Regions from separate parts of the Homo sapiens genome. Here regions 1, 2, 3 and 5 are each reported to be linked to region 4. The links are microRNA targets in miRTarBase. Many come from high-throughput screens and were not tested one by one. Region 4 holds a microRNA gene; each other region holds the end of a gene's coding sequence.

Region 1 (6,420 bases), not on the chromosome of region 4:
TTAAGTTAGATCCTCAAAGGTCTTTTCACTTGTCCAAACCTGTGCCTGTGGGCTTATCGTAATTCCTGTGTCATTTCTTAGTAAAAATGATCTGCATTTAAAATGGCATTTCCGTTACTAAATAAACTTTTTTTTTGTCATCTTTCAGTTTCCCTTTCAAGACAATCTCTTTCAATCCATGTATTACCCCCTTCAGCTGAAGTTTTTGGAGACTGTGCACACTTTATGTGGACGAATCCCGCAAGTTTTTCTGAAGCAAATTGAGAAAACAATGAAAAGGGCTTATGAGAAACACGTCATCATCCATGTTGGCCCCAACCAGATGCACTGAATATTTTGTCTTGTTGCAAGTCAATTAGGTGTCTTGTGACCAAGGAAATACTAATCTCTAAGCTGCCTGGGTCTTTTTGTGTGAATATTTAATGGTGCTCCATGACTGTTGAGTTTTAAAAACCTCGTTAAATTTTGCCAAATCAGTTGCCCCCAAAAGGGAATATGCTTTTCCTTATTTTTTTTTCTAAAATGCTATTTATCTCTAAGGAAAAAAAAAAAAGACTATTACTCATTTAACATTGTTTAAGCAGGTTGAGCTAGCTGTGAAAATAGCTTTTGTGAGCCTTCTAATTCCTAAACGTCTGAGACCATTTCAGTGGCACCTGAGGTGTTATATTGATCTAGCATTCCTGAGACTCTTTCTATGCAACTGACTCCCCCACACCCGTGTTATAAAAGTAATACACACTTTTGAAACAGAGAGACACACTTGTAGAGCATATGGGTCAAGGGCTCAACATCAAGATTAGATTAGCCATAATCCTATTGACCAGTGGAAAAGATTGTTTCCATTTTAAAGCAGTTCCTTACAACCTTTTTTCTCTACTTTTGCATTTTCCACTCTAACACACATCTAAAACAGGTAATCTCAGTAAAAGCTGGCCTTTTTGCTGAGATTTTTATGTGGGAGACTAAAATATTAGATGAGATGATTATGTGTACAGAATTTTATTTAAAATACATCTGAGAGAATCATTCAGATACTTGGGTAGTGTTAAAGGATGAAGCATGTATCTGGGGGTATTTCTTCTTTTTCTTTCTTTCTTTTTTTTTTTTTTTTTTTTTTTGAGACGGAATCTCACTCTGTAGCCCAGGCTAGAATGCAGTGGCAGGATCTCGGCTCACTGCAGCTTCCACCTCCTGGGTTCAAGTGATTCTCATGCCTCAGCCTCCCCAGTAGCTGGGATTACAAGTGTGTGCCACCACACCCGGCTAATTTTTGTATTTTTAGTAGAGACACGGTTTTACCATGTTGGCCAGGCTGGTCTTGATCTCCAGACCTCAAGTGATCTGCCTGCCTCAGCCTCCCAAAGTGCTGGGATTACAAGTGTGAGCCACTGCACTCAGCCAATCTGGGAGTATTTCTAAAGAAAAAAATTACTTTGATTTGTGGAGGACTAAATCATAATACATTTCTATGCAACAATAGCTTCTGAGAGGAAATTCAGGAATGTTTGTGTTTACCACAGACAAAAACATTTGATCTGTTAATCATCAGTAGCTGTGGTCATCTCTCTTTCTTAAACTCTTGGGCAATGGGTGGAAATCAGAGACCAACTTCAAATTTAATGTGTAAAAAACAAATAGTTCAGCTGCTTCTATTGGTAAGAAAATTCAACTTCCTACCAGCCTTAGAAAGGTCTCTTTAAACAATTTCTTTCCCCCTAGGGTTACCTAGCTGGTCCATACAGGTTTTATCACCTCACTGCAAGGAGGAAGTTGAATATTCTGTTCCCCACGGGGATCTGGCTTAATCCCTAGTTGCTCATATAGTTGGTATCAGCATAGCAATATTTTGCATAATGCTTTATTTTTCTCAAATGACTATTGCATAGATGATCTTGATATTTGCAACAGCCTAGTGGATTTGGTAGGGTCCTGAATCATCTCTATAAGGCAAACAAGGAAATTGTAACACAAAGAAATAAACATATTGAATATAATTGCTATTCTGTAAGACATACAGTCTGTGTAAGATGTATCTTATTTACAGAGACATTTTTGAAAATTAAAATATTAAATACTTTTTGTTATATAGAGACAATGATCTGGAAGTATAAAAAGAAAAATATTATCTTGTTGATGTAAATATGATATCCTTATATATATTAGAATCCAATAAGATATCATGGGCGCAATATTAGCAAAAAAAAGTCAGTCTTACCCTGAAAAAAAAATAGATATGAAAATCTCAGCACTACACAGAAATGTTTAGATGTCAATCAGTTTTGGTATGCAGCATTATTATAGTAGTAACAAATTTAAATCTAAAATTTTAGAGTAATACTTTCCTTCTGATCAGTTGCCCTGTGGTTATTTTTGTTAAGGAAACTACCATTATGACGGGAAACTCTTATTTTTGCTGTTATATTTTGTTTCCTTATTTCACCACTAGAGGTGACATCATTATTTTGTAACTTTAGTACTAGGCTTTCCATTTGTGGTATGGACACGTATGATATGGAGCAATTTTTGAATTGTCTTTCACATAGGGGAAATTGCATCTTATATACCCATAAATTGGGTTTTAGTGAAAGAGCCAGGATGGAACATAATTTCCTAACTTCCATCCTAGTTTCCTTTCTACTTGTTCAGAATGGCCAGTGAAACACACAAATGGCACTCAGATTTGTTGATGGCTCACCAACTCAAAGAGGTTCCTTCTCTCCTTTGATAAGTCCCACAAAAACATCTACTGTAAAGACTTGAAATACAATGCCTTTCTTTTTTATGAGAGCCAAGTTTACCCACAACTCTCAACTACCAGTACTGGTCTGACTGTGCAGAAAAGGGTTGCCCGCAAAGGTCAATGATATCACCCTAGAACATTCTAGAATGATGAATTTTGAGAATGTGAAACCTTAGAACCTCGTGCGGTTGTCTGCCTTGGAATTCCTGTGCTGTATCCTGAAATTTTAGCTGAATTTGGCAGAGAATTCAGAGAAAATTTGCTTTTCTAATCCTTGCTGCCTGAAAGTGCTAATTATTTTCCATAGCTAGGATATTACCATGGAGCAATATTTTCTCTGCCTTTGATAACTCCCAGCAAATTACTACATTAACCGCCTTTGAAATCCAGGAGCCACAAATTTTAATTCAGTGGCCTGCTAAAACATGCACTCTCTGGTTTAAAGTTTGCCAGAGGTGGTGCTGCCCCATATGCCACATTGAATACTGGGAAGGGCCGGGCACGGTGGCTCACGCCTGTAATCCCAGCACTTTGGGAGGCCGAGGCGGGCGGATCACGAGGTCAGCAGATCAAGACCATCCTTTCGAACACGGTGAAACCCAGTATCTACTAAAAATACAAAAAATTAGCCGGGCGTGGTGGCGCCTGTGGTCCCAGCTACTCGCGAGGCTGAGGCAGGAGAATGGCGTGAACCCGGGAGGCGGAGCTTGCAGGGAGCCGAGATTGCGCCCCTGCACTCCAGCCTGGGCGACAGAGCGAGACTCCGTCTCAAAAAAAAAAAAAGAATACTGGGAAGAAGGTGGGCCAGTTCTCTCCTCTCCTCCTGCCCTGCCTTTTCTCTCTTCCCTCTCTTTTCTTCTTTACTCATTTCTTTTTAATTTCTGTTTAATGCATATAACTATGGACTTCCATTAAAGAAGAAAAGAGCACTTTCTGATAGCAAAAGGTGACAGTATTTTTATATGCATCGAGATTGAGGTTTTTCAACAGCAGTGTCACTGGAAATGCTGCCAATATTTTTCTTGCTGAGTGTTTCTCCAATATAAATCTCAGTAATCATGGCTTACATTGAAAATTCTAATATTTAAACAATTAACTGGCTAGAAAAGCAATTTAAGTTTTTCTTCAACTTCCAAAATGGCAATTTAGCACTTTGGATACAAAGCTCCAAGCTTTACTATTTATGGGATATGTCTAGTTCATATTCAGTGCTTCCATTGCAAATTATTGTGACTTTTACCAAATTTGGTATTGAAATGGGTATTTATATGGACTCAGACGTTTGAGAGTATTTCTTTTATTTGCAGTTATGGTGTTCATGAGCAAAAACAAATAAACCAAATCATACAAAACATTATTATTCACAGTGATTGAAAACAAAATAATGATCCAGTAACAAAATAATCACTCGCAGCCCAGCCTGAAAGCAGGACATTCATACAAATTTAGATTCATGTATAAATATTATCTGATATTTATACATTATTATCTGATATTTATACGTATAAAAGATAAATTACATGTGTTTGATAAACCAACATGAACATGATTTCATCACTGAAATCAGAAATATGTTGAGTTCTATGACAGCACAAATCATATTTCCTTTCTTTCTTTCTTTTTTTTTTTTTTTTTTTTTTTTTTTTTTGAGATGGAGTCTCGCTCTGTCACCCAGCCTGGAGTGCAGTGGTACGATCTCGGCTCACTGCAAGCTCCACCTCCCGGGTTCACGCCATTCTCCTGCTTCAGCCTCCCGAGTAGCTGGGACCACAGGCGCCACCACGCCCAGCTAATTTTTTGTATTTTTAGTAGAGAAGGGGTTTCACCGTGTTAGCCAGGATGGTCTTGATCTCCCGACCTCGTGATCCGCCCGCCTCGGCCTCCCAAAGTGCTGGGATTACAGGCGTGAGCCACTGCGCCCGGCCTCTTTTCTTTCTTTCTTTTTCTTTCTTTCTTACTCTTGCTCTCTTGCTCTCTCTTTCTCTCACTCTCTTTCTCTCTCTCTCTTTCTCTCTTTCCCTCCCTCCCTCTCTCTCTCTCTCTTTATTTCCTAAGCAAGCTAACACAGGACATATTCTCTCTTTTTTTTTTTTTTTTGAGATGGAGTCTCCGTCTGTCACCTAGGCTGGAGTGCAGTGGCACAATCTCAGCTCACTGCAGCCTCCGCCTCCCAGGTTCAAACGATTCTCATGCCTCAGGCTTCCGAGTAGCTGGGACTACAGGTGTGCACCACCATGCCCAGCTAATTTTTGAATGTTTAGTAGAGATGGGATTTCACCATGTTGGCCAGGCTGGTCTCAAACTCCTGAGCTCAAGTGATCCACCTGCCTTGGCCTCCCAAAGTACTGGGACTACAGGCATGAGCCACTGTGCCCAGCTGACATATTCTCACTTAATAGAATTATAGAGAAATTTTTCATGTTTTTCTTTTTCTCTCCCACTTTTTCATATTCCTCTTTTTCATTTTTGCCTTTCCGTTTCTGTCTATGATGTAGGCTTCTGAGGAGAACCAAGAAGCTTGGCTTTAGTGGTAGAATGACAGAACTTAGGGATCCCTTGCAGGCTAGAACAAAGTTCTGACCCTTAGACCAAATCTTTATGTTAAGAGTTTTCCAGAATTCAAAAAAAAAAAAAAAATCAATCAACACAACACACACACACATACATACACACACACTGCCTTTAAAAGGAGGAGCCAATATTTGTTGTACCTGTGAACTGAGGAATTATAGATAAACCTTAGGTCAAATCATTTCACAATTGCATTGGTGGTATTGAAAAATGATGAGATTTCTCTGACAGAGAGCTTTGTCCTAGTTTTTGTTCTTCATAGGTCAAAACTGGCAATATTCTCTTGTCTGCAAGATAAAGTGTTTGTGCTTCTATCACCATATGCATGAACATGTAAGAATCAGATACAATTTCTGCTTCATCAGTTTCACATGTTCATGTTGTCACTGAAAAAATGCATCTACTGTTTATAGCTCCCAAGGAGACCCCAAATCCTTTTTTTTTCTTTTGAGATGGAGTCTTGCTCTTGTTGCCCAGGCTGGAGAGCAGTAGCGCGATCTCAGCTCACTGCAACCCCCACCTCCTGGGTTCAAGTGATTCTCCTGCCTCAGCCTCCCCAGTAGCTGGGATTTACAGGTGCCCGCTACCATGCCTGGCTAATTTTTGTATTTTTAGTAGAGACAGGCTTTCACCATGTTGGCCAGGCTGATCTCAAACTCCTGACCTCAGGTGATCCACCCACCTCGGCCTCCGAAAGTGCTGGGATTACAGGAGTGAGCCACCGCGCCTGGCCCCGTATTCATTTTTTATACTGGAAAACATTTTTTTTGTAATTTTTCTTTGCAAAGAAATGAGCATAAAAATGAATACTCCAAAGAAAAGGAATTATTATGGCAAATTAAAAGGGACACGGTACTATGATTTAATTACTGTCTTGTCTTTTTAAAATGTCATCTCTTGTTTTACCCTTTTTTTAAATAAAAGCTTTAAAAACATGTCTTTGGGTATTATTCTGGAGGTATGTTTCTTTTATATAAGATTTCAAGTTTAAACATTTACAATAAGTAATAATATTTAAATTCTTATAACAAGTAATGAAATATTTGGTTTAGTAATTAGCTTAGTCTATTTTAAAAAATCATTAAAATTTGCTTTGTTTTTAAGAA
Region 2 (6,674 bases), not on the chromosome of region 4:
TCTCCTTTCATCACTCATTAGTGTTGTGACCCATGGGACAAGTTACTTAACCTCCCCGGCCCTTAGTTTGCTAGTCCTTAAAGTAGGTATCTACCATCAGAGGGTTGTTGTAAAGGTTAAGTGAGCTAATAAATTTGAATAGAGCTGGGCACAGTGGCTCACGCCTGTAATCCCAGCACTTTGGGAGGCCGAGGCGGGCGGATCACGAGGTCAGGAGATTGAGACCATCCTGGCTAACACGGTGAAACCCCGTCTCTACTAAAAATACAAAAAATTAGCTGGGTGTGGTGGCGGACGCCTGTAGTCCCAGCTACTCGGGAGACTGAGGCAGGAGAATGGCGTGAATCTGGGAGGCGGAGCTTGCAGTGAGCCGAGATCGCGCCACTGCACTCCAGCCTGGGCAGCAGAGCGAGACTCCATCTCAAAAAATAAATAAATAAATAAATTTGAATAGAACACTTCCGCGACACATAGTAAGTACTCTTAGATACTCATTTTAAGAAATTAGAAAATTACATTGCTGGTGAAGAGCATAAATTGAATATATTGAAATGTTTCGTAGCCCCTTAACTACTTTGGCTCTGTTAGGAGGAAACGAAGGCCAAGACTATCCAAAATTCTCAGGAGGTGTTAAAGAGCAAATTAAAGTTTATGTCAAATTAATGAAGTTTTTATTTTAAATGTATATGTACTTTGCATAAATATGTACAGTACCATCTTTTCACACTGGTGATGATGAGGTTTTATTCTAAGCCTCCAAATCTATGGAGAAGGTGGCAATTTTTTTTATTTTTTATTTTTTATTGGGACGGAGTCTCACTCTGTCGCCCATGCTGGAGTGCAGTGGCACGACCTTGGCTCACCACAACTTCCGCCACCCGGGTTCAAGTTGCACTCCAGTCTGGGTGACGAGTGAAACTCTGTCTCATTAAAAAAACAAACAAAAAACTGAACTGTGAGAACTTAGCTGATTTATAATCTGCTGGTTCTTTTTTTTTTCTGAGTCGGAGTCTCGCTCTTTTTCCCAGACTGGAGTACAATGGCGTGATCTTGGCTCACTGCAACCTCCGCCTCCTGGGTTCAAGCAATTCTCCTGCCTCAGCCTCCTTGAATAGCTGGAACTACAGGCGTGTGTCACCATGTCTGGCTAATTTTTGTGTTTTTTTAGTAGAGACGGGGTTTCACCATGTTGGTCAGGCTGGTCTTGAACTCCTGACCTCGTAATCCACCCGTCTCGGCCTCCCAAAGTGCTGGGATTACAGGCATGAGTCACCGTGCCCAGCCTCTGCTGGTTCATTATTACAGCTTTCTTTATCTTTGATAGTGATAGCCAGCTCATCAGTACTCTTAAGTCTGGTCACCTTGATTCTTACAGCCCATCATGTTCAGAGGTGAGGTCCGTCTGAATGTCGAAGAGAAGAAGACTCGAGCTGCCAGGGAAGGCGACCGACGAGATAATCGCCTTCGGGGACCTGGAGGCCCTCGAGGTGGGCTGGGTGGTGGAATGAGAGGCCCTCCCCGTGGAGGCATGGTGCAGAAACCAGGATTTGGAGTGGGAAGGGGGCTTGCGCCACGGCAGTGAATCTTCATGGATCTTCATGCAGCCATACAAACCCTGGTTCCAACAGAATGGTGAATTTTCGACAGCCTTTGGTATCTTGGAGTATGACCCCAGTCTGTTATAAACTGCTTAAGTTTGTATAATTTTACTTTTTTTGTGTGTTAATGGTGTGTGCTCCCTCTCCCTCTCTTCCCTTTCCTGACCTTTAGTCTTTCACTTCCAATTTTGTGGAATGATATTTTAGGAATAACGGACTTTTAAAGAAGCAAAAAAAAAGACTGAATTTCCTTGCTTACTTTGCATATACAGACTGGATTTTTTTTTTTTTTTTACAGCCATTTCCCCAAAGGAATGTCTTGCATATTACTGACATTTGGTATGTTTCATTCATTGGAATATTTCTTATTTTCTACGTGTTTGAAAAGCCTGTAAGAAATACAGGATTTGATAATATTTTGAAGGCAGGAAAAACCCAAATTGTTTCTTCTTTGAGAGTCATGACTACCTTCTGGTGTGGAGAAATTGCCATTGGAAAATTTGACAATTTTGATTCTCACTGGTATGTTTAAAAACTGAATAAAAGGAATAGAATTTTTTTTTGATAAAGGATCACAAAACAATTCTAAAACCTAACTGTTTTTACCATTGAAATTTAAATTGTGATAATAGGTTTTAAATGTCTAGAATGCAACTGATAGGCTTTTCTTGAACTGTTAGTTTTTTTGAAGTAGTTTTTTCATGTTTAATTTGTATTTGTAAAAAAACAAAAAGCAAAAAAATTCCCAAAACCCAGATAACAACCAGAGCAAAACTGTTGTGCCTTCTATTTATCTTTGATTTCAGTCTTGGCAATTGTTTAAAAAAAAAATCTAGATTTGTTTTATTAGGTTCAGAGTATGTGGGGAATTATAGAATCCCTCTTTCATCACTTTGTGTATGTCTTTTGTTAACATATTTGTTATGCCTTATTCTAAAATTGAGTCTCAAACTGGAATGCCTTTGAAGACAGATGCTTCTATAGAGGTTCTTTGACCTAAATAGTTCAGCATTTGTATTTTTATTCTGGTATCTAATCAGATTCCTAATCATAGCCCGTAAGAAGGAATGTTACTTTAATATTGGACTTTGCTCATGTGCTCGTGTCCGCATTTTTTTTTTTCTTAAAATCATAGCCATATGGTAAATTTTCTATTTTGTTATGGTTCTCTTTTATTGATGGGCATGCAGTGGGTGTTACTTGGAAATGGCCAATTTTTATTAAAATATTTCTGGAAGAAAATTTAATCTGGCAATATAGACTAATACTCGTTTCACATATGTGTTATTTGTTGAGTGCTGTGTGTGAGATGGGTGAAGGTTTTGTTTACACGTGTGAAACAAACTTTTGTGTGATTGTCATTACTAATTGAAGGGCAACCAGGTTGTAAAATTCAGCGTATTTATTTTCTTAACAGTATTCATCTTTAGGACTGTCGTTTGAGGATAGCATAGGAATATTTGGTTTGCATTACTGAGAAACTCTAGGTTTGCTGTGATGGTTAAGACCACAGTGAAGTTGGTATTACCAGTTTGGTTCCAGTTCCTCAAATATTTGAAAATTGGCAGCATCTCCTTTACATAAACTTAATGTAACTGAATCACATGGCTTTTTTGTAGGGTTAAAGTAACTTTGGTAACCACTTTTGGCCCAGATCACTGATAATAGGAAGAAATACAACTTATACTTTTGTAGCTTATATTAAGCATGTGGTGGGTGGAAAGAAAAGTTTAGTCTGAGTCACTTTGGAAAAAAAAATTACTTTGTGGTAACTTCAAGGTCATAAATTATGGATAGCCTAGAAATTATCCTTCATGAGTGAATACTAAATTATACATTTCAAAACAGAAGTTCTTCCTACTTGGAGACTTAAGGGCATTAACTAGATGCAGCAATCCTCAGCTTGGTGTTATCACATACTAGAGGACATTTGGAAATGTGTGAAATTTGGAAGGGTTGTTGGAGAGACATGCATCTGGCATTTATTGGGTGGGGTCTAAGGATACCAAATGTTGTGTAAAAATGAAGCAACCCCATTGAGAACACTGATAGTCCCTATTCCTGTGGGTGGGTGGAGCTGTGGGATTAGGAAAACTGGAATGAAGACTCATTCTTTTGAAACTCAGCCTCAGATAAATAACAAACTAGGAAATGGAAATCTGTTTCAAGAATTGCAGTAACATCTACTCTAAGGAATTAGTAATTTCACTTTTTATTATTTGTACCAAATGTATGTGTGTGTTGTGTATGTTGGTGTAAATGTGGAGAGGTGGTAGCAATACATACTGATGCTGCTTGTAATTTGTTGCAGGGAATTACTGCACAATCTCAGAAAATAGAAAGCTTCCCCAGTGCTTTCTGTCATCAGAGTTGGGATGATTGTGAGGTTTTGAATGATAGTATTGGACCTAAGAAATAGGATTAGCATCATGATCAGAACTGTTGAGAATCCTTGTACAATTATGTACATTATTGCATGTAGAGTAAACCTGAGAGCTTAGAGATGTATACGTTTCCACTGCTGGAAAATCATTATAAGTTAGGGCAACATTTTCTATAGGTGGCAGCAGTAGGAGCTCATCACATTGAACATTTTCAGATTTTAAAATGAAAATTTTCATCCGTAGGAATGGCCCAATGTATAGTTATTAGCTACTGAGCTTAGAACTCTTGACCCATGAGATTTTTTTTTTAAATTTTTATTTTTATAGAGGCAAGGTCTTGCTATGTTGTCAGGCTGGTCTCAAGCTCCTGGCCTCATCAGTTCTCCTGCCTTCCAAGTAGCCGGAACTACAGGTGTGCACCATTGCACCTGGCCTCATGAGTATTTTAGTTAGATAAGATTTGTTTGGTTCAGTGGGTCTTAGTTTTTTAAGACCTGTTAATTTGTAATTAGACATCTTGGGCCTTAAACTGTATTTTTGTTTTAGTGGTGAGGTTGGGTTTTACTTTGTGTATTCCAGCGTTCTCAACTTTGTCAGATATTGCTAGGGACCAGTGAGATAGATAATCCAAAAATAATAATTTGACTTTGGTTGAGTATGTCATTACCACAGTGTTAGTTGAATTGCACTTTAGGTTAGAAAAGTTAATTTTCACATCTGTGCTGCGGGTTAGGTGATATTGTCCTCAGCACAATAGATGAGGAAGAAACTGAATCAGAACAGTTAAATGACAGGCTTCCAAGTCATCCATGTAGCAAGGAGCACATTTGCCTCCCAAACTGATGCTTTTTCTCTAGAACCATAATGCCCCCCTAATTACATTTCAGTAGCATAGACCGCAATGAACTTCCTACTGTAGGGAGACTTGAGTCTGGAATACATTCAGAACAAGGTTAACATTACAGTTCTTAATTTCCTTTAGGGCAAACAAGATAATTAAACTTGGGTTTTGTGAGTCTTTTTTTGATTTGCAGATTATATATGGTAACACAATAATGGTGGTTTGTTTTTAAGTTTTTTCTCATCAGGTTTGATAATTTAATGCAAACTTCAAATCTGGATGTGAATAATAATATTTTTATTATAGTATAATCCAGGTGAGTTTATAGAATTTGTGTTTTGTGCTTATAAACTGTCACCTTCTGATACTTTTCTTCATCCCTCTATTTGAAAAACCCTTGTAGAATTTAACGATTTAATGGAAAATGTTGCACTTTATAGAAGGCCATTTTAGAACTTACAGGTAACCTTTTTGAAGAGCTTAGATTTGTAGACCACTGTTTATGCTGAGTGACATTTCTTTTAAATGGTTGCATTTGTCAAATCTATAAAGATGTTTTTTATATTGCAGTTTTCTTTTTGTGCTACTTAAAGGAATCTTTGCAATGCTGCATATAGATAATTGTTGACCTTTTTAGTTCAGCAGTTTTTAAACTTGAAGTAACATCAGCATTTATTTGAATATCAGGTTTTAGCTAACTGCCTAATGTACCAAAAAAAAATTAGCAATGTCTTATGTGGGATGAGGGGTTAAGTTAAAGTTGCTGATCAAGTAATGGCCGTGTGGCACAAGATGATAACTAAGAATTTCTGGTTCTAAGGTAGTAATGCCTTTTGGGATTTATATTTGTTTAATGTTGAGATTCTGGGGACCATAGGTGGGCCTGTCAACTCTTAACAGACTATAGTAAAGGAGAGATGGTGGCACATGTGAGATAAAACTTGTTTATATTTACATTCTTATTAGTGGATAGATATCACCTCAGTACAACACTGAAATTAAACTGCCTTGTTCATGCTTTCATGTCTCAAATCAAGGCCTAAATGAGTAAAAAGATGATTACAGATTACCTAAAACCCTTAACCAGTTTTGGTTTTTGATTATGCATATGTGTTGGCTTGCAATTAGGTTTTTAGTTTCTGTTTATGTGACTTGTTTGAAAACATTGGATTCGTCTTCTCTCCACAGTTTCTACTTGAACCTAGTAGCTTATTTTAATTCCCTGTAAGAGGAAAATAATATAGGGAATCTGTTCAACTATTCCTTTAATAAATCATGTGACTTGGCCAATTACAGAAATTCCTAAGTGTAGTATTTTGAAATGTGGCCAGTGTCCCAGATTTGTAAGGTACAGTGTGCATACAGTGTGTCTTAGGATTTTTTTAAGTAAATTAAGGATGTTTACCAGAAATTATTGATTTACTGAACCAAGTATTTATTTTCAGAAGCCCACTTTTGGGGAAGGTTGCCTATATTTTTGATAGTAATTAGATGGAAGATTAAATCCTGTTTAACCTGGATAGAAACAGTTTTAACTATTGCTGAAGTTAAAATCACTTTGGGGTGGGGTGGGGTGGCTCATGCCTGTAATCCCAGTGCTGTGGGAGGCTGAGGCCAGAGGATTGCTCGAGGCCAGGAATTTGAGACCAGCTTGGGCAACATAGCAAGACCCTGTCTCTACAGATAATTGAAAAGTGAGCCAGATGTGGTGGCGCATTCCTATAGTCTCCGTCTCTCAGGAGGCTGAGGCAGGAGATTGCTTGAGCCCAGGAGTTGGAGGCTGCAGTGAGTTATGATCATACCACTGCACTCTAACCTGGGTGACAGAGTGAGACCCTGTCTCTAAAAAAC
Region 3 (6,674 bases), not on the chromosome of region 4:
CTTATGAAACCATCAGATCTCATGAGACTCACTCCCTGTCACAAGAACAGCACTGGGGAAACTGTCCCTATGATCTGATCACCTCCCACCAGGTCTCTTCCTCAACACCTGGGGGTTACAATTCAAGATAAGATTTGGGTGGAGACACAAAGCCTAACCATATCAATTGGGTAATTGATTCATGGCCAAGTTGGACTTAATAGCACAACCATCTTTCCAAAATCAAAATAAATTGCATAAGAATTATGTGGTGTAAATCTAAATATATAACTTTTTTTATTTGAAATTCAGCTTAAAAGTCATGTTTATCATGCTGTAAACATAAGATTTTAAATAAGAACCCTTAAATATTATAGGTCTTATACCTGTATTTATCTCTTATGTTTCTTATTGCATGGATTTCTCTGTTCTACTAGATCAGTGATCAGCACACTATGGCTTGTGCTCCACCTACCACTTGTTTTTATAGATAAGTTTTATTGAAACATAGCCATGCACATTCATTTATATATTGGGTATTATTGTCTTTGTACTACAATGGCAGAGTTGAATAGTTGCAACAGAAACTTCATGGCCTTCAAAGCCTATAATAGTCCTCGTCTGGCCCTTCACAGAAAAAGTTTGCCAATCCTTGTACCAAATTGTAAGCTCCATGAGAGTTTTCTGTATTAATCACTTGAGTGCCCCTGCATCTGCAGAAATTTCTGGCACGTGGTGTTGACTCTGTAGGAAGTTTTTGAAGGGAAAAGTGAATTGATTACCTTTATATTTCTGTATCAAGGAATACAATAGTATATATTCAGTTGCCATTAATGGAGATGAGTTTTTCAAAAATTAATATGGATTCTGAATTTCTTTATTTTTAAAACTATTTTGAGTGCTTATACAATTTTATAATTTGGGGAAGTTAATCTCTAGAGAAGAAAAAATGGCCCCTGTGTTGATGATCGGCATAAGCCAAACATGACTGAAAAACACAATAATGTTTTCTCCACCGCTGTTGCTTTTGTTTCTGTTGTTGCCATATGCATAGCTTTTTCTAAAGAGAGATTTTCAGTTCTAGATAGGTTGAGATTGTTTTCTCTAAATACCGTTTGTTCTAATACTGTTTGTGAACATATTTATGTTGTCTTCCTTATTAATACTTACAGATCCTTAATTTAAAAAGGAAACAAAAACCTATTCTTTTTTTTTTCCTGCATTGCATTAAGAAATTAAATGAGCAAGCCGCAGAACTCTTCGAATCTGGAGAGGATCGAGAAGTAAACAATGGTTTGATTATCATGAATGAGTTTATTGTCCCATTTTTGCCATTATTACTGGTGGATGAAATGGAAGAAAAGGATATACTAGCTGTAGAAGATATGAGAAATCGATGGTGTTCCTACCTTGGTCAAGAAATGGAACGTAAGTTTAAACAATGGTAGTAGGCACCTGAGATGTCCGGATTAAATGCAGTTAGAATTAGATGTTATTTATTCTTGCCATTTTTTATATTAAATACAATATTAAGTATTAATATTTTCACATTCACATGATTACTCTTTTTCCATATTGATGAACTAAGCTGTGTGCATTGCAGTTGCCATTTATGTTTTTGTCTCCCCAAAATGGCAATTATCTTACCTATTAGAGTAAGTTAATATTAGTAAATCATGTTGACAATGATCGTGTAATAATTTCTATCTTTAGTTAGATTTAATTGTTTGTATTTGCAGCACACCTCCAAGAAAAGCTGACAGATTTTTTGCCAAAACTGCTTGATTGTTCTATGGAGATTAAAAGTTTCCATGAGCCACCGAAGTTACCTTCATATTCCACGCATGAACTCTGTGAGCGATTTGCCCGAATCATGTTGTCCCTCAGTCGAACTCCTGCTGATGGAAGATAAACTGCACACTTTCCCTGAACACACTGTATAAACTCTTTTTAGTTCTTAACCCTTGCCTTCCTGTCACAGGGTTTGCTTGTTGCTGCTATAGTTTTTAACTTTTTTTTATTTTAATAACTGCAAAAGACAAAATGACTATACAGACTTTAGTCAGACTGCAGACAATAAAGCTGAAAATCGCATGGCGCTCAGACATTTTAACCGGAACTGATGTATAATCACAAATCTAATTGATTTTATTATGGCAAAACTATGCTTTTGCCACCTTCCTGTTGCAGTATTACTTTGCTTTTATCTTTTCTTTCTCAACAGCTTTCCATTCAGTCTGGATCCTTCCATGACTACAGCCATTTAAGTGTTCAGCACTGTGTACGATACATAATATTTGGTAGCTTGTAAATGAAATAAAGAATAAAGTTTTATTTATGGCTACCTATGTGTTTGTAAGCAGGTATATTGTATATTAGTGTATTAGTAATACTAGATAAATGAATTTTGTCTGGGGATTAAGATTGGATAGTTAATAGATTAATACAATCTTTTAATTCTGCTCTAATGCTAGCAAATTGGAAAATGTTTAAGTCTTTGACACTTAAATTTATCTATATTTTTAACAAAGTTCTTGAACTTAGTATGGCACCGGAACCTGTTTTGAATTCAGTCAGGTTTTTACTCAAGTAAGTGGTTGATTTTTTTTAAGTCAAACTACACTGAAACTTTTATCCTTTTCTTAGATTAATCTTACTTTTTAAATGTATTTACAATATACAGCAAGGTGATTATTTCAAGAGAATCCCAAAGTACTTGAATAAGGGCTATTGTAAAATTTAAAAGAAATATTTATATATACACATATATACACATACACACATGTATATATATATTCTTCATAATGGAGGACAATGTTTTGCAATATATAAATCATTCTATTTTTGTAAATTGTATATCACTTTAATTGAAAATGTTCTCTACTAATTAATACTGTGAAACAAAATTGATGTTGTTTAACTAGAAGTTATGAGTATCTTAACTGCCTTTATTCCTTTTCAAAAAGGAAAAAGCTGTAGAACATTTTGTAGATGAAACTACTGTTTAAGATTAATGAATTAATATTGTGAATGAAAATCAAAATCCATACTTTAAAGGTAATCATGTTACTAACAACCTATTTTTGAATTCATAAAAATTTCTTTATAAATGATGTTTTGTGAACATAGTAAAATAGACCATTATACTATGTGTATGTTTGATACAGCGTCGCCAAAACTAGTGTTCTTTATTAGTGCCTCTCACAAAAGATCCTGGATGGAGGAGTAAGATGAAATATTATGCTATTATATGATGCTGTTTGTAAAGGTATTAATGTACTAGTAAGGTGTTAATGACAAGGAATTAGTACTATTCCTGTTGTAAAGTTAGATTTTGCATATTGTATCTATCAAAATATGTTTGGGTTTAGATTTTAAGTTGTCTACTGAGCAGATTTCTGCATTGGTTTTCCAGTCCTGTTAAAAGTTTAGAAACTTCATATGTGTCATCACAGCTTTTGTAAAGAAAGTATCCTTAATATTTTATGACATTCTACCACAGTGGTAAAGTTGTTTGTGTTTGTGTATAATTGACTGCTGAGATACAAAGTGCCCAAACACTATATGGAAATTATTCCTTCAAAGTCACATCCAGAGAATCATGTCACTCTTGTGCTGAAGGTAAGTATTATAATTGTATTTACTATGTACTTAAAAACCAGATTATTTATTCCTAGTAATGAATTTGAAATAACTTATTTAAAGAAAAGTGACCTTTTTCAAGACCTACAGAAACAACTTATTTTAATATTGGTTTTTAATCTAATTGTAAGGTTTAGATCATTGAAATTTCTTTTTTTTTTTTTTTTTAAATTTCCAACTTTTAAGTTCAGGGGTCCATGTGCAGGACATGCAGGTTTCTTACAGAGGTACATGTGTGTCATGGTGGTTTGCTGCACAAATCATCCCATCACCCAGGTATTAACCCCAGCATCCACTAGCTATTCTAACTGATCCTCTTCCTCCTCCCAGCCCCCACCCTCTGCCAGACACCAGTGTGTGTTGTTCCTTCCACCATTGAGTCCAATATGTTCTTATCGTTTAGCTCCCGCTTATGAGAACATGCAGTAGTTGGTTTTCTGTTCCTATGTTAGTTTGTTCAGGATAATGATCTCCAGCTTCATCTGTGTCCCTGCAAAGGACATGATCCCATTCCTTTTTATGACTGCATAGTATTCCATGGCGTATATGTACGTTTTCTTTATCCAGTCTATCACTGACTGGCATTTAGGTTAGATTCCATGCCTTTGCTATTGTGAATAGTGCTGCAGTGAACATACACGTGCATGTTTTTATAAGAGAACAATTTGCATTCCTTTGAGCATATATCCAGTTACGGGTTTGCTGGCTCAAATGGTATTTCTCTCTTTAGGTCTTTGAGGAACCATCACAGTCTTTCACAATGGTTGAACTAATTTACACTTCCACCAACAGTGTAAAAGTGTTCCTTTTTCTCCATAACCTCGCTACCATCTGTTGTTTTTATGACTTTTAATAATAGCCATTCTGACTGGTGTGAGGTGGTGTCTCATTGTGGTTTTGATTTGCATTTCTCTAATGATCAGTGATACTGAGCTTTTTTTCATATACTTGTTGGCCTCATGTATGTCTTCTTTTGAGAAGTGTCTGTTCATGTCGTTTGCCCACTTTTTAATGGGTTTTCTTTTTTCTTGTCAATATCATAAGTTCTTTATAGATGCTGCATATGAGACCTTTGTCATATGCACAGATTGTAAAAATTGTCTCCCATTCTGTAGGTTGTCTTTTTTACTCTGTTGTTAGTTTTGCCATGCAGAAGTTCTTTAGTTTAATCAGATCCCGTGTGTCAGTTTTTGCTTTTGTTGCAATTGCTTTTGACACTTCGTCATGCAATCTTTGCCCATTCCTATGTCCTGAATGGTATTGCCTAGGTTTTCTTCTAGCGTTTTTATAGTTTTGAGTTTTAAATTTAAGTCTTTAATCCATCTTGAGTTGATTTTTGTATATGGTGTAAGGAAGGTGTCCAGTTTCAGTTTTCTGCATATGGCTAGTCAGTTCTCCTAGCACCATTTATTAAATAAGAAATATTTTTCCCATTATTTGTTTTTGTCAGGTTTGTAGAAGATCAGATGGCTATAGGTAGGTGTGTGGTCTTATTTCCGAGTTCTCTATTCTGTTCCATTGGTCTCTATGTGTCTGTTCTTGTAACAGCACCATGCTGTTTTGGTTACTGTTGCCTTGTACTGTAGTTTGAATTTGGGTAGTGTGATGCCTCCAGCTTTGTTCATTTTGCTTAGGATTGCCTTGGCTACTCAGGTTTGGTTTTTTGTTTCGTTTTGTTTTGTTTGGTTCCATATGAATTTTAAAAGTTTTTTCTAATTCTGTGAATAATGTTATTGGTAGTTTAATGGGAATAGCACTGAATCTATAAATTGCTTTGGGCAGTATGGATATTTCTACAATATTGATTCTTCCTATCCATGAGCATGAATTTTATTTTCCATTTGTTTGTGTCCTCTCTGATTTCCTTGAGCAGTGGTTTATAGTTCTTGAAGAGCTCCTTCACGTCCCTTATTAGCTGTATTCCTAGGTATTGTATTCTTTTTGTGGCAGTTGCGAATGGGAGTTCACTTGTGATTTGACTCTTGGCTTGCCTGTTTTTGGTGTATGGGAATGCTAGCACTTAGTGCACATTGATTTTGTATCCTGAGATTTTGTTGAAGTTGCTTATCAGCTTAAGAAGCTTTTGGGCTGAGATGGGATTTTCTAGATACAGGATCATGTCATCTGCAGACAAAGATAGTTTGATTTCCGTCTTCCTATTTGAATACCTTTATTTATTTCTCTTGCCTGATTGCTCTTGTCAGAGCTTCCAATACTATGGGGAATAAGAGTGGTGAGAGAGACAGCCTTGTCTTTTACAGGTTTTCAAGGGAAGTGCTTTCAGCTTTTGCCCATTCAATGTGATGCTGGCTGAGGGTTTGTCATAGGTGGCTTTTATTATTTTGCAGTATGTTCATTTAATACCTAGTTTATTGAGAATTTTTAACATGAAGTGATATTGAATTTTATCAGAGGCCTTTTCCACATCTATTGAGGTAATCATGTGGTTTTCGTCTGTAGTTCTGTTTATGCAATGAATCTCATTTATTGATTTTTGTATGTTGAACCAACCTTGTATCCCAGGAATGAAGCCTACTTGATCGTGGTGGATAAGCTTTTTGATGTGCTACTGTATTCAGTTTGCCAGTATTTTGTTTAGGATTTTTGCATCAGTGTTCATCAGGGATATTGGCCTGAAGTTTTTGTTGTTGTTGTTGACGTTGTATGTCTGCTAGGTTTTGGTATCAGGCTGATGCTGCCCTCATAGAATGAGTTAGGGAGGAGTCCCTCCTTTTCAATCTTTTGAAATCGTTTCAGGAGCAGTGATAGCAACTGACCCTTCTTTGTACCTCTGGTGGAATTCATCTGGGAATCTGCCTGGTCTTGGACTTTCCTTGGTTGGTAGGCTGTTACTACTGCCTTAGTTTCAGAACTCATTATTGGTCTGTTCAGGGATTCAATTTCTTCCTGTTTCAGCCTTGAGAGGGTGTATATGTCCAGGAATGTATGATTTTTTTCTAGATTTTCTAATTTATGTGAATAGAGGTGTTCATAATATTATCTGACTTGTCTTTCTATGGGGTTAGTGGTAAGAGCCCACTTATTTCTGATTG
Region 4 (6,674 bases):
AAACAGTACTTGGCTCCAGGAATCAATTCAGGTCTGATTCACCAGTGGTTTGTGCCCGAGCCAGCGCCACAGGCTGTCTCCTTTCCCCTGTTCTATCACTCACTACCCTCACTGTGGCCAGGTTGGGACTCTTGAGCAACAGGCAGATACCTGTGATCTTGAGAATTGCACTGACTCTTTTGAGGGTTTTCCAGGCCACAGCAGGACTTGTCTGCCTCATTCCTCTGGGCAGCTCAGAGCATTACCCCATCAGCTGCAGTTTCAGTATCAGGGTGGGGCAGTGGTGTGGGGTGGGGCACCGTGTTACTAGGACTAGCCCTGTTGGCTGCAGACACATTGGCAACAGGTGGTGGCTCAGGGGCACAGAACAGGTGGACTACACATCTCCAGGATGAAGTGTCATTTATTGGCATTTGCCTTTTGAAAGAAGCAATCTACTTATAAATGGCAGGACCCTTTTTATTTTCTTTTTTGAGAAAAGCATTTTATTAAATCCATATTTGGAGATATGTTTTAGCAAAGTATAATTAGCATTTTTTGTTTAGAGGATGAATTGTGTTGCTACTCAATAGAAGGAGAATATGGCATACAAACAATGCTTTTATGCAGAAACATGTGTTTTTGTTTTTGAGACAGAGTCTTGCTCTGTTGCCCAGGCTGGAGTGCAGTGGCGCAATCTCGGCTCACCTCTGCCTCCTGGGTTCAAGTGATCCTCCTGCCTTAGTCTCTCAAGTAGCTGGGACTACAGGCATGTGCCACCACGCCCAATTTTTGTATTTTTAGTAGAGAGGGTTTTGACATGTTGCCCGGGCTGGTCTCGAACTCCTGACTTCAAGTGATCCACCCACCTTGGCCTCCCAAAGTGCTGAGATTACAGGCGTGAACCACCGCGCCCAGCAGCAGAAACATGTTTTAAAAGTACATTCAGGCTGGGCGTGGTGGCTCATGCCTGTAATCCCAGCACTTTGGGAGGCCAAGGTGGGCGGATCACGAGAGGTCAGGAGATCGAGACCATCTTGGCTAACATGGTGAAAACCTGCCTCTACTAAAAATACAAAAAATTAGCCGGGCGTGGTGGTGGGCGCCTGTAGTCCCAGTACTCGGGAGGCTGAGGCAGGATAATGGCGTGAACCCGGGAGGCGGAGCTTGCAGTTAACTAAGATCACGCCACTGCACTCCAGCCTGGGAGACAGACGGAGACTCTGTCTCAAAAAAAATAAAATAAAAAAGGACGTTCATACACTTAAGCTTTTCTGACTGGACACGATGCTGCTATTTAATAATAAACTTTTTTGATCTTAAAAGAATCCAGAGCAGGTCCCCCAGGAGCAGGTTCGTGGCGTATCACCAGTGGGGAAGGCTTTTCTCAGAGGCTCTGAGGCAGTGTCTCAAGAAAGGGGGGAGGCTCCGCTTTCTCAGAGTTGCAGTGCTCACCTTGCTGCTGCTGCCACACATCTGTATGCGCCTTCCTGGTACATCACCATCACCACAGGCTCTCATGATAGTGAGGGCTTGACTCCTTCGGGAACCTCAGTCTCCCCAGCTGGAAGTAGGAGCCATAATGCCTCCCTTTCAGGCTTGTTGGGACAAAGAGATGAGGTCACATAGGTGAAGCATCAGCAACTGTGCCTGGCACAGAGGAGGCCCTGAAAGTTGCCAAGCTCAGCGTTTTCCTTCACATCAGCTCTGCTCCACCCCCTTTAATTACTCACTTTTATAATAATTCAAAGGTAACCCATGACCATGGTAGAAAAATTAGCACATATAAGCAAAAAAAGGGAAAAAAGTGATTCAATAGCTTCTGGTTTTTCTAGCCTTTTTCTTTATTCTGGGTGCTTGGTATGGGAAGTTTCTTCATTTGTGTTTAGAGGGTTTTGTAGAGATGATATCATGGTCCCACTTTGCAAACGAGACAATTGAATTCCAGAAAGAGGAAGTGCCTTCCCCAAGGTCATGCAGATAAGGTTAAGCTGGGTTGAAACCCACAGCTTGAGTCCAAGCCCAGCACCAGAATATCAGGACCACAGAGGCATTGCACACAGGTGGGTCACAGATACCTGTCCCTGAAAAGCTCATGATACGGTATTTTCCTTGAAGGACTTAAACATTCCCCACTGAAAACATCCTGCTTTGTGACTTGCCCCATCCTGAAGTCCTGGGAGTGGACAGTTTGTGAATAAACCACCTGACTAGGTGAGGGCTGTCGGCTCCTGAGTTTTGCTCCCCCAGAGACACTGAGTATGCACCATCCGTGGGCTTGCCAGCATGAAAGTGCTATCATTGTGGGCTTTCCCTTCACATTTTTTTTTTTTTTTTTGAGACAAGGTCTTGCTCTGTCACCCAGGCTGGAGTGCAGTGGTGCGATCTTGGCTCACTGCAACCTCTGCCTCCTGAGTTCAAGTGATTCTCCTGCCTCAGCTTCCCAATAAGCTGAGATTACAGGTGCGTGCCACCATGCTCGGCTAATTTTTGTATTTTTATTAGAGACAGGGTTTGGCTATGTTGCTAAAGGCTGGTCTCGAACTCCTAGCCTCAAGTGATCTGCCCGCCTTGGCCTCCCAAAGTGCTGGGATTATAGGCATGAGCCCGGCCTCCCCTCACTTTAAAGGATGCTCCTTACCTGTTTTTGCTTTCTTCTGGTCTTTCCTGTGGCAACTGTTGTGGGGTTCCCAGCAAATATTTCAGTTTTTTCCTAAAAGAAGTAAGCGTGCACATTTCACTGGCTAAAGTACACTCTTGTGTTAAAATTCTGCATTGAAAATGGGTGAAGTCACCCTGGCAACATGGCAAAACTGCATTTTTACAAAAAATACAAAAATTAAGGCCAGGTGTGGTGGCTCACGTCTGTAATCCCAGCACTTTGGGAGGCCGAGGCAGGCAGATCACTTGAGGCCAGACATTCGAGACCAGCCTGGCCAACATGGCGAAACCCTGTCTCTGCTAAAAATACAAAAATTAGCCAGGCATGGCTGGGTGCGGTGGCTCATGCCTGTAATCCCAGCACTTTGGGAGGCTGAGGAGGACAGATCATGAGGTCAGGAGTTCAAGACCAGCCTGACCAATATGGTGAAACCCCGTCTCTACTAAAAATACAAAAATTAGCTGGGTGTGGTGGCACGCACCTGTCGTCCCAGCTACTTGGGAGGCTGAGGCAGGAGAATCGCTTGAACCCGGGAGGCAGAGGTTGCAGTGAGCCGAGATCACGCCAATGCGCTCCAGCCTGGGTGACAGAGCAAGACTCCATCTCAAAAAAAAAACCAAAAAAACAAAAAAGCTGCGTGGTGGTGCACGCTTGTAATCCCAGCCGCTTGGAAGGCTGAGGCACAAGAATCACTTGAGCCTGGAAGGTCAAGGCTGCAGTGAGCTGTGATGGCGCCACTGCACTCCAGCCTGAGTGAAGGGCAAGACCCTGTCTCAAACAAACAAACAAAAATCAAAGGATGAAGTCACGTAGATTTTGGGCAAATTGTTTTCCAAAATCTGTTAGCATAATTCTACAGAATGTCAAAAAGATAAAGACATCCACCAGTAAACCCTAATTGTTTGATGGTTGTAAGTAGTCACTTGAGATGTGACCGCAATAGGGGCCTGCCCATGGGGAAGGTGGCATACCCACCCATCTCCTGTGCCAACATGGCGTCCCTATCTCCTGGTAGCCCTGAGGCGAGGGTCAGGTGAAGGAAGTTGGGATCATCATTTACTCAGTTTGCCTATCTGTAGAAAGGGGGTATTTGGGCTGAAGGTGGCCTGTAACTCACAGGATGATCTGTCCCCTCTTCACACTGCACCCTGCAGTGAGGGGAGCAATGACTGAGTCAACCACTGCTTTAGGCAGCGGGGGTCCTTGATAAGGAGATAAGTTTGCCACACTGGGACTGATGGTCCTCAAGTTCTTTTCCAGCACCGATATTCTAAGATTCGGTGACTCCAGAAAAGCAATAAGGCCGTTGTGAGGAGGGCAGATCCAGAGGATGATCTTCCTGGAGGGGAGGGGAAAATGTTCAGTGCATACAGTGGGTAATGGTTCATCTGAGGTGGCATCAGACTGTACAACAAGCAGGGATTGTTCTGCAGGGTTCAGGCGACTGTTAGTATTTGATCAAGATTGGAATAGTCTCCTAAAACCTACTTGATCCTCACAGAAAAGTTCCTATCCCCATTGTGCAGATGTGGAAACTGAAGGTTAGAGATAGAAAGTTAGACCCTAGGGTGAGGCAATGGATGGCTAGGACTAGAACCCAAGGCAGGCTCCTAGGGCTCCTGCTTTTCCAGCACGCATCTACCATGCATATGTGCTACTACCAGGCCTGGCGCTAGGATTCACATCACTTTAGAGGCTGCTTGGTGAACATGGGCACCCACAAAAGCCCTGGAGAAGGCAGGTTCTTTCTCAGGAATGGCCAGTGGGTGTGAAGATCACAGTGTGGGAGAAAGATCAAGGAGGACTGAGGGCCACCCGACCAGGAATCATCTCCAGCAGCCTGTGGGTGACCGCTCGTCATCCAGATCAGCATCAGGAAGGTTCTGCACAACACCTCTAGGGAACACATGGGGATCGAGGTCCTGTGGCCGTCTTGGGGTCTGAAGATCTAGATTTAGCTTCTGGCAGTATCATGATGCAAACCTGGGCAAGTTGTTTTGTTCCCTGGACCTTGGTCTCTTCATCAGTGAAATGGAACTAATTATATTACCTCATAGGGCTATTATAAGGCCTAATAAAAAAAAAAAAGAAAGCATCCATAAACAATGTTTACTGAGCACTAGTAGTGCCAGGCACTCTTCACTTGTATTAACCCATTTGATCTTCACAAAAAATATTTTCTTTTTTGTTTGAGACGGAGTCTCCCTCTGTCGCCCAGGCTGGAGTGCAGTGGCGTGATTTTGGCTCACTGCAGCCTCCACCTCCCAGGTTCAAGTGATTCTCCTGCCTCCGCCTCCCGAGTAGCTGGGATTACAGGCGCCCGCCACCACACCCGGCTAATTTTTTGTATTTTTAGTAGAGACAGGGTCTCACCATGTTAGCTAGGATGGTCTCGATCTCCTGATTTCATGATCTGCCTGCCTCGGCCTCCCAAAGTGCTGGGATTACAGGCGTGAGCCACCGCACCTAGCCCACAACAAATTTTAGAGAGTAGGTACTATTGCTGTCCCCATTTTAGGAAACACAGAAGTTGGTTCCAGCCACAAGGAAGTGGCTTCATCCATCATCAAGAAGTTGATTCCAGCCCACGTGGATGGCTTTGAGGAGTTCAAGACTTTAGTGGAGGAAGTGATGAAAGATGTGGTGGAAATAGCAAGAGAACTAAAACTGGAGTCTGGAGATGTGACAGGCTCCACTTTCAGTTCTCTTGCTATTCCCACATGACCATGGTCCAGGATCCTGAGTTTATGTTCAGGAAATAAGACTCAGCGAAAACTTGCAGTCACTTTCATAATCATTAATGCAGAGATTCTCAATAAATTCTTAAGGCTCCACCACGCTCCAACATAAAGTAACACATTCAGTTTGTTACAGAAATGGTAATAAGGCAACACTATGCAATACTATGTGTACAATGCAGCACTTTGCAGTACCAAAATCCATGCCTACAAAGCACTGCACAAGAACACATACAAATAAAGGATATAGTAGAATGGCTGCCTGTGGGGTGGGGGCATGGAAATGACAATGGAGTGAGGGGGGAATACATGAAGCAAGAGGTGACTAGTCAGGACCAATGATGACAGCCAGCCATCACCTGGGGAATAGGAGGGACTCATCCCACTGCACCTGAGGACTAAAAATAAAATGGAATGGAAACAAGACCCTGGGTGAAATCACTCGGCCTGAAATACACTGGCCCTGGGCTCAAAGAGGAAAGGTGGGGACACATCCTGGGCTGCCTCATCAAACCAGGAGCCTGCAAGAGCATCCCTGTGTGTGTGTGGAGGGGGTGAGGACAAAGGGAGGGTCAACCACACCCAGTTCTGTGAGCTCAAACACCAGACTAAAGGCCACAGGCAGACCCTCCAAGGCCTCAGGGAAGGAGTGAAGAGAAAGGCCTGGGTGGTCAGTGTCAGAGGCGGCACAGTCACATGCTGTCATGCCTATTTCACCAAGGTTTAGCCAAATGCACTATTAGGGTGTCAAGAAAATATGGATATAGGGCAACAATCCTGTGATTGTATGATGACTGTAGGCTTGATCATCATAAGGGTCCTGCCATATGCTGGTCCAGTTGGCACACCCACCCATCTCCTGTGCCAGTGGAGTGTGCCTGTGAAACAGCAGTCAGCTCTTCTGGTGGCCCTGAGGATCGGGGTGAAGGAAGAGTGGATCTTCATTTAGTTAGTTTGCCCCTCTGCAGGAGGAGGGGAGTTGGATACAGACCTCTCCTAACAACCCGCCTGGCTACTGGAACCTTCCTGAGAAATGTGGTTAACCTCTGGGCGCAGAGCCAGCAGTTCTAGGCTCCCGTCACAAGGGGGCAGGATGGGGAAGAAAACAGGTTCTCAATTCCAGGCCTTGGACCTGTCAGGTTTGCTGGCAGGGGCAGGAAGGAGGGTGGGGTCGGGAGTGTGTGGTGGTTGATGAGGGATCCAACCATCGTTCCGCAAGAGCGGCTTGTTTATTAAACATGAAATGAGGGAAAAGCCTAGTAGCTCCATTGGATTGGGAAGAATGGCAAAGAGAG
Region 5 (6,674 bases), not on the chromosome of region 4:
CCAGCCCAGACACAATTATAGTTAGCATTTTGGTATACAGCATTTACTTCCATTTTTAAATTATTTTGCTTTATTAATTAGTTGGTAATTATAGAATATATGAATATATTCAAATTTATATTTTGCCTTTTGGTATGAATATTTCATCAGGATTTATTTTGTGTTGCTACCACATTTTTGTGTTATTTTTTGTTTTTTTAGATTAATGAATGTGTTATGAAAAAAATGAATAAGTTTTATGAAAAAAGAGGCAATTTCTACCAGAACACTGTGGGTGATCTGCTAAAGTTCATCCGGAATTTGGGAGAACACATTGATGAAGAAAAGCATAAAAAGTAAGTATTGTTTTCATTCCTACAAATTATATGTGAAATGAGAACAATTTAAAAAATCCAATTCTAAGTTTATATCTACGATGGAAAAAAGAAAATTTATTTTGATGAAAGAAAAGTAATTCCTTCCCTCTGTGTGTAAAAGGGCTATCACTGTTGCCTTACAATTAATGAGGGACATGTCCAGCAGGCTTTCATCTTCCTTGTCATTTTTTTGTTGGATAAATGGTAAAACAAATTGAACAGGAGCTAGTGACTCCCTTCTGTGAAGTAACACAGGAGACTGGACAGCTAGATAAAGTGAAGGTAGAGTTATATACGTCTAAAAATAGCCCACATTAGTTAGATCAGCTTTTGCTGACAAAGATGTTAGTTGCAAACTCACAAAAAAGCCTTGCAGTTCAGGGCTCTTCTGGATTTTGGAATTGTAGGTAGAGGATTGTGGCATTGCACTATTTCCATTTTATGAAAGAACAATCTAAAGTTCAGAAAGATTGTGGCCAAAGGTTGCACAATTAGTTGAAGAGTCAGGGGAGGAGTCTTGCTCTGTCAGATTCCAAAGTCCTTATTCATTCTGCAATAGAAATCAAGCGAGCAAAGAGATCTTCAGGGCCATATGCTGTGAAGCGGGGAAGAATAATTTGGGGCAAGCATGCTGAACAATTTGTGTTTTATTTCAGGATGAAATTAAAAATTGGAGACCCTTCCCTGTATTTTCAGAAGACATTTCCAGATCTGGTGATCTATGTCTACACAAAACTACAGAACACAGAATATAGAAAGCATTTCCCCCAAACCCACAGTCCAAACAAGCCTCAGTGTGATGGAGCTGGTGGGGCCAGTGGGTTGGCCAGCCCTGGGTGCTGATGGACTGATTTGCTGGAGTTCAGGGAACTACTTATTAGCTGTAGAGTCCTTGGCAAATCACAACATTCTGGGCCTTTTAACTCACCAGGTTGCTTGTGAGGGATGAGTTGCATAGCTGATATGTCAGTCCCTGGCATCGTGTATTCCATATGTCTATAACAAAAGCAATATATACCCAGACTACACTAGTCCATAAGCTTTACCCACTAACTGGGAGGACATTCTGCTAAGATTCCTTTTGTCAATTGCACCAAAAGAATGAGTGCCTTGACCCCTAATGCTGCATATGTTACAATTCTCTCACTTAATTTTCCCAATGATCTTGCAAAACAGGGATTATCATCCCCATTTAAGAACTGAGGAACCTGAGACTCAGAGAGTGTGAGCTACTGGCCCAAGATTATTCAATTTATACCTAGCACTTTATAAATTTATGTGGTGTTATTGGTACCTCTCATTTGGGCACCTTAAAACTTAACTATCCTTCCAGGGCTCTTCCAGATGAGGCCCAAAACATATATAGGGGTTCCAGGAATCTCATTCATTCATTCAGTATTTATTGAGCATCTAGTATAAGTCTGGGCACTGGATGCATGAATTCCACTCCTTCCAGAACCAACTGCATTGGTTTTCCATGACCTTAAGGCAGTAGTTCTCAACTGGGGGGCAATTTTGCACTGAAGAGAGCATTTGGCAGAGTCTGAAGAAGTTTTTGGTGTCACAGCTTTGTGGGGAGCATGCTATGGCATTTAGTGGGTAAAGACCAGGGATGCTGCCAAACCTGCCTTGCACAGGACAGCCCCTGCAACAAAGAATTATCCAGACAAAAATATCAATGGTGCTGAGGTTGAGAAAACCTGACTTAAGGGGCTGGGATGCTTTTGAACTAGCTTAAGGCCCAGGACTGTGGAGTGTGTGGACCACCCCACAGAGGAGGGACTCAGATTTATTTACTCTTGCTGGATCTGTAGTGATGGAGTTCCTTCTGGTGTCAGCCCCACAGGAGGCTCCCAGGCCTCCCTCACTTCCCATACCCAGTCTAGGAGCTCCTTCTGGCTCCCAAGCACCCAGAGCTTTCCTCCGCCTTTTAGTTTTGGTTCCTCCACTGGAATGTAGGCTCCTCACGGGCGATGGCTGTCTTTTCTTGACTTTGTATCTTCACTGCCAAGCAAAAAGTCTGCCAAGTGGGAATGTTTAATAAATATTCATTGAATAATGAATGAACCATCTTCGTACATGAATAATAATACTGTCTTACGTTTTTCTGGTGCTTTATAATGTATACATTACATCTGAGTATTTTATTTTATTTAATTTTCAAAACAATCCTTTAAGGTCAACATTGTTATCCCTATTTTGCTGATGAGGAAACTAAGGTTAGAAACATTTTGATTTCCTCTAGGACGTATAGCTAGGAAGTGTTACTATCTTGATTTGAACAAATTTTCTGGTGCTAAGTCTGATGTTCTTTCCATGAATCATTGTGGTGGTTGAGATGGAGCTTTGTAATGGGAATAAAACAGTACCTTAGGTTCTTTCTGAAAAGGAGGTATCTAGCAATGGATAAATAGATACCACTGAATGAAATTAAATGTTGATTAGGAACAAATTTAAGGCTTAAAAAATACTTTATGAGCAGCAAGATTGCTTTAACTTTTAAAATGAAGCTTTGGTTCTCTGATTTGTAATGAGCACCTGGACATGTCAATTAAAATGCCCATTTGTGAAGCTTACTCAATAAAACTTTAAATTGTCTTATTTAGTCTGATTTTCTTTAAGTGACATTTCCACTTTAAGGAGTGGGTGATATCTACAATAGAAAATATTCACTAAGTAATTCCTGGATAAGTTTTAAGAAAGGTCATCCTGCTGTCTGAAAATGGGAAAAGGAGTTATTTTTGACTTTCTAGTAATTCTGGAATAATGTGGGCCTAGTATGTAGTGAGAGAAGGGAGGAAATGATCATTTTTCCGTCTGCTTGAATTCTCTGAGAGTTTCTGTTGACATTCTGCAAACATTTCTCATTCAGTTGTCATCGTCACAAACATTTCATTGAGCATGTGGTTCATATCAGGTCCTGTATTAGGCAGGCTGATTCTGTACTCTTGCTCAGGGGTAAAAGCTCTATCCCTGTGTGCTTTACTCAGCAGTTGGTGGCATTTACCTGTCTCTCCAATAAGCCTGGGAGGGCAGAGATCATATCCCATTTCCTCACTTGGTGCCTGGTGTGTTATAAGTGTGTAGTGTATTTAAGTTATAAGATACTCCTTGAATTCACTGGTTGAGAAGAACCTTTAACATTTGATTTTTGGTGGGTCTTTGCTGGAGCTGCAGCCTGGGAGAGAGGTAAGTCTTGGAGCCGACCCCTGGGCAGCTCTTCCGTTCTCTACCCCACAAGCTTTAGGACACAGTGGGCTTTCAAGATGATTTGGGTAAAGAACAGCACAACCTTCCTCTGGAGGAGACCCTGGGAAATTCAGCTTTCCTTTTTCCTTTCTGTGGAGATTTTCTCTTAGGCTTGCCTAAGTGCCTAGTACAGTGCCTGGCATGTACTATGCACCCAGTTTTACTTGTTGCTGTTCTTAATTACTGCTATATAGTGAATTGTGTCCCTCCCAAGTTCATACATTGAAGCCCTAACCCCCCAATGTGTTAGTATTTGAAGATGGGGGTCTTTGAGAGGTAATTAGTGTTGGATGAGGTCATGAGGATAGGGCCCTCATGTTGGGATTAATGACCTCATAAGAAGACAGAAAGAGCTCTCCTTTCTCACTGCCTTATGAGCACACAGAAAGAAAGTGTCCATCTGCAAGCCACAATGAGAGTCTTCACCAGGACCCCAAGAGACAAAAGTGACTAAGACAATCACCATAGGCTTGCAGCAAATGTTTATGCTCCTCTGGTCTTCTCCTATCACATGAACAGATTTTTTTTTTTTTTTTTTTTGAGATGGAGTCTCGCTCTGTCGCCCAGGCTGGAGTGCAGTGGTGCAATCTCAGCTTACTGCAAGCTCCACCTCCCAGGTTCACACCATTCTCCTGCCTCAGCCTCCCCAGCAGCTGGGACTACAGGCACCTGCCACCAAGCCTGGCTAATTTTTTTGTATTTTTAGTAGAGACAGGGTTTTACCATGTTAGCCAGGATGGTCTCGATCTCCTGACCTCGTGATCCACCTGCCTCGGCCTCCCAAAGTGCTGGGATTACAGGCATGAGCCTCAGCACCCGGCCATATTTTTTTTTTTAAAAGGAATGTTTTTTCATCACTTCCACAGTGTTTTTCATTTGTGTAAACTTTTCATTGCTTTATGGCCTATTTGCTTAGACTAAGACCAAAAGATGGGCCAGGCATGGTGGCTTACATCTGTAGTCCCTGCATTTTGGGAGGCTGAGGTAGGCAGACCACTTGAGATCAGGAGTTCAAGAAAAGCCTGGGCAACAAGGTGAAACCCTGTCTCTACTAAAAATGAAAAAAAAAAAAAAATTAGCCAGATCTGGCGGCATGTGCCTGTGGTCCCAGCTACTTGGGAGGCTGAGATGAGAGGATAGCTTGAGCCTGGGAGGCAGAGGTTGCAGTGCGCAGAGATCAGGCCACTGCACTCCAGCCGGGGCAACAGAGCCAGACTCTGTCTCAAAAACAAACAAACAAAAGAGCCTGCCAAGACCAGCTCGGTCGGGGAGACCCTAACCCCATGGCGCTAGAGGAATTAAAGACACACACACAGAAATATAGAGGTGTGGAGTGGGAAATCAGGGGTCTCACAGCCTGCAGAGCTGAGAGCCCTGAACAGAGATTTACCCATGTATTTATGAACACAAGCCAGTGATAAGCATTGTTTCTATAGATTATGGATTAACTAAAAGTATTCCTTATGGGAAATAAAGGGATGGGCTGAAATAAAGGAATGGGCTCTGGCTAGTTATCTGCAGCAGGAGCATGTCCTTAAGGCACAGATCGCTCATGATATTGTTTGTGATTTAAGAACGCCTTTAAGCAGTTTTCCACCCTGGGTGGGCCAGGTATTCCTTGCCCTCATTCCAGTAAACCCAAAACCTTCCAGTGCGGGCATCATGGCCACCATGAACATGTCACAGTGCTGCAGAGATTTTGTTTATGGCCAATTTGGGGGCCAGTTTATGGCCAGATTTTGGGGGGCCTGTTCCCAACAAGACCCAAAGATGGTACTAACAAGAGGAGAGAAGTGGGTGGGGAAAAAGCAAAGTAATTGGATTTTTTGAGGCTGTAGAACACCATCAACAGGAGTCTATGTTGATAATATTTATATTTAATATTATTTATTAATAATATTTATTCAAAAATAATAACATAACATTACTATGTTAGCCACTAATATTGGCCTATAAAAATTTAACCCACGAATCTTGAAGTGATTTGATGTCCACAGCAGGAGTGAACCCAAAGCAATGAGAGACATAAACACAGAGAATTTCACTTTCTGCTCACTGAACATTCTTCTTGAGAATCAAGTCTTTTAAAAAATACATTTTGTGAAACTGAATAATTAGCGAAGACTTTGTTTAGCTCTTTTAACAGGGACCAAATGACTGTGACTCAGACAAGGTAGAAGATTATGTGTCTTTCATGTTAATGCCTCAGCTGTTCAGCAGACCAGGAAGTAGGAAGTTACGCTCCATAAGTCAGTGAACAAATAAGACCAAAATCCCTGTCCTCATGAGGTGGGAGCAGGGTGGGGAAGAAAACCAACATCCATAAGGACAGAGTATACTAGAGGGTAATAGTAAGCAGGAAGAAAGTTAAGCAAGGTAAGAGTTGGTAGTTAGGGAAAGTAGATTAAATTTAAAGACGGGGGTCAGGTGGACCGCATCAAGAGGGAGCCTACCAAGTGAAACTGCAAGGAAGCAAAAGAGCAAGCTGTGGAGGTATCTGAGGGAAAGCAAACAGAGGGGACGGATAGTCAGTTCAGAGGCCCTGGGGCCTGTTCATACCTGAGCTGTTTGAGGAGCACAAAAGCATGGTTGCCATACAGAGTGAGCAAAGACCAGCAAGAAGAAGGGAAGACAGAGGGGTCAGGGAACCAGGGAGGGAGGGCCCCAAAGCACATGGAAGGGTTTGGGTTTTTACTGAGATGGGAAGCCCTCAGTGGACTGTGGGCAGAGGAGTGGCATGATGTAGCTTAACACTTAAAAGAATCACTCTGGGTCCTCTGTGAACAGAAAGCAGAGGGCAAGAGTAAAAACAGGAAGATCAGTTAGGAGACTATTAAATAGTTTGTGCAAAGACTTTAGTAGCCGATGCTGGGTGACGGCAGTGAGGTTGACTTCAAGTGGGCAGGCAGACTGGGGATGTATTTTGAAGGTAGAGCCAACAGGATTTACTGACAGAGTGAGATATGGTGTGAGAGAGACGAGTCCAGGACAATTGTCAGCATTTTGGCCTTGAGTGACTGGAGGAGTAGGGCTGCTATTAAATGGAGGTGGAAAGGCTTCCAGAGGAGC

The links. The annotated mature microRNA hsa-miR-3925-5p reads AAGAGAACUGAAAGUGGAGCCU and lies in region 4 at 5,329-5,350, opposite strand. An mRNA with a match to its seed (bases 2 to 7 or 8) in the 3' UTR can be bound and repressed. Matches are read on the target gene's strand: a 7mer-m8 pairs with bases 2 to 8, a 7mer-A1 pairs with bases 2 to 7 and ends in A, and an 8mer does both.
Region 1: the mRNA of GXYLT2 is a reported target of hsa-miR-3925-5p. Seed matches in the 3' UTR shown: 7mer-A1 at 873-879.
Region 2: miRTarBase lists G3BP1 as a target of hsa-miR-3925-5p. Seed matches in the 3' UTR shown: 7mer-m8 at 2,763-2,769 and 7mer-A1 at 4,832-4,838.
Region 3: the mRNA of USP25 is a reported target of hsa-miR-3925-5p. Seed matches in the 3' UTR shown: 8mer at 2,855-2,862.
Region 5: the mRNA of RNASEL is a reported target of hsa-miR-3925-5p. Seed matches in the 3' UTR shown: 7mer-m8 at 2,872-2,878.

Annotation. Positions count from the first base shown.
Region 1 is chr3:72,974,829-72,981,248 of GRCh38, forward strand. It overlaps GXYLT2 (glucoside xylosyltransferase 2), which reads left to right. Exons shown (of 7, transcript NM_001080393.2): 7 at 149-2,087. The coding sequence ends at 331. Among named protein-coding and RNA genes, the nearest start is that of PPP4R2, 19 kb to the right of the region's middle. RefSeq lists an enhancer at 2,574-2,643.
Region 2 is chr5:151,802,510-151,809,183 of GRCh38, forward strand. G3BP1 (G3BP stress granule assembly factor 1) reads left to right here. Exons shown (of 12, transcript NM_005754.3): 12 at 1,376-6,674. The coding sequence ends at 1,582. Among named protein-coding and RNA genes, the nearest start is that of G3BP1, 34 kb to the left of the region's middle.
Region 3 is chr21:15,876,585-15,883,258 of GRCh38, forward strand. USP25 (ubiquitin specific peptidase 25) reads left to right here. Exons shown (of 26, transcript NM_001283041.3): 25 at 1,212-1,407; 26 at 1,719-3,480. The coding sequence ends at 1,891. Among named protein-coding and RNA genes, the nearest start is that of USP25, 150 kb to the left of the region's middle.
Region 4 is chr6:36,617,152-36,623,825 of GRCh38, forward strand. MIR3925 (microRNA 3925) reads right to left here and starts at 5,361; the gene lies at 5,285-5,361.
Region 5 is chr1:182,569,917-182,576,590 of GRCh38, reverse strand. It overlaps RNASEL (ribonuclease L), which reads left to right. Exons shown (of 7, transcript NM_021133.4): 6 at 202-335; 7 at 1,013-2,957. The coding sequence ends at 1,199. Among named protein-coding and RNA genes, the nearest start is that of RNASEL, 16 kb to the left of the region's middle.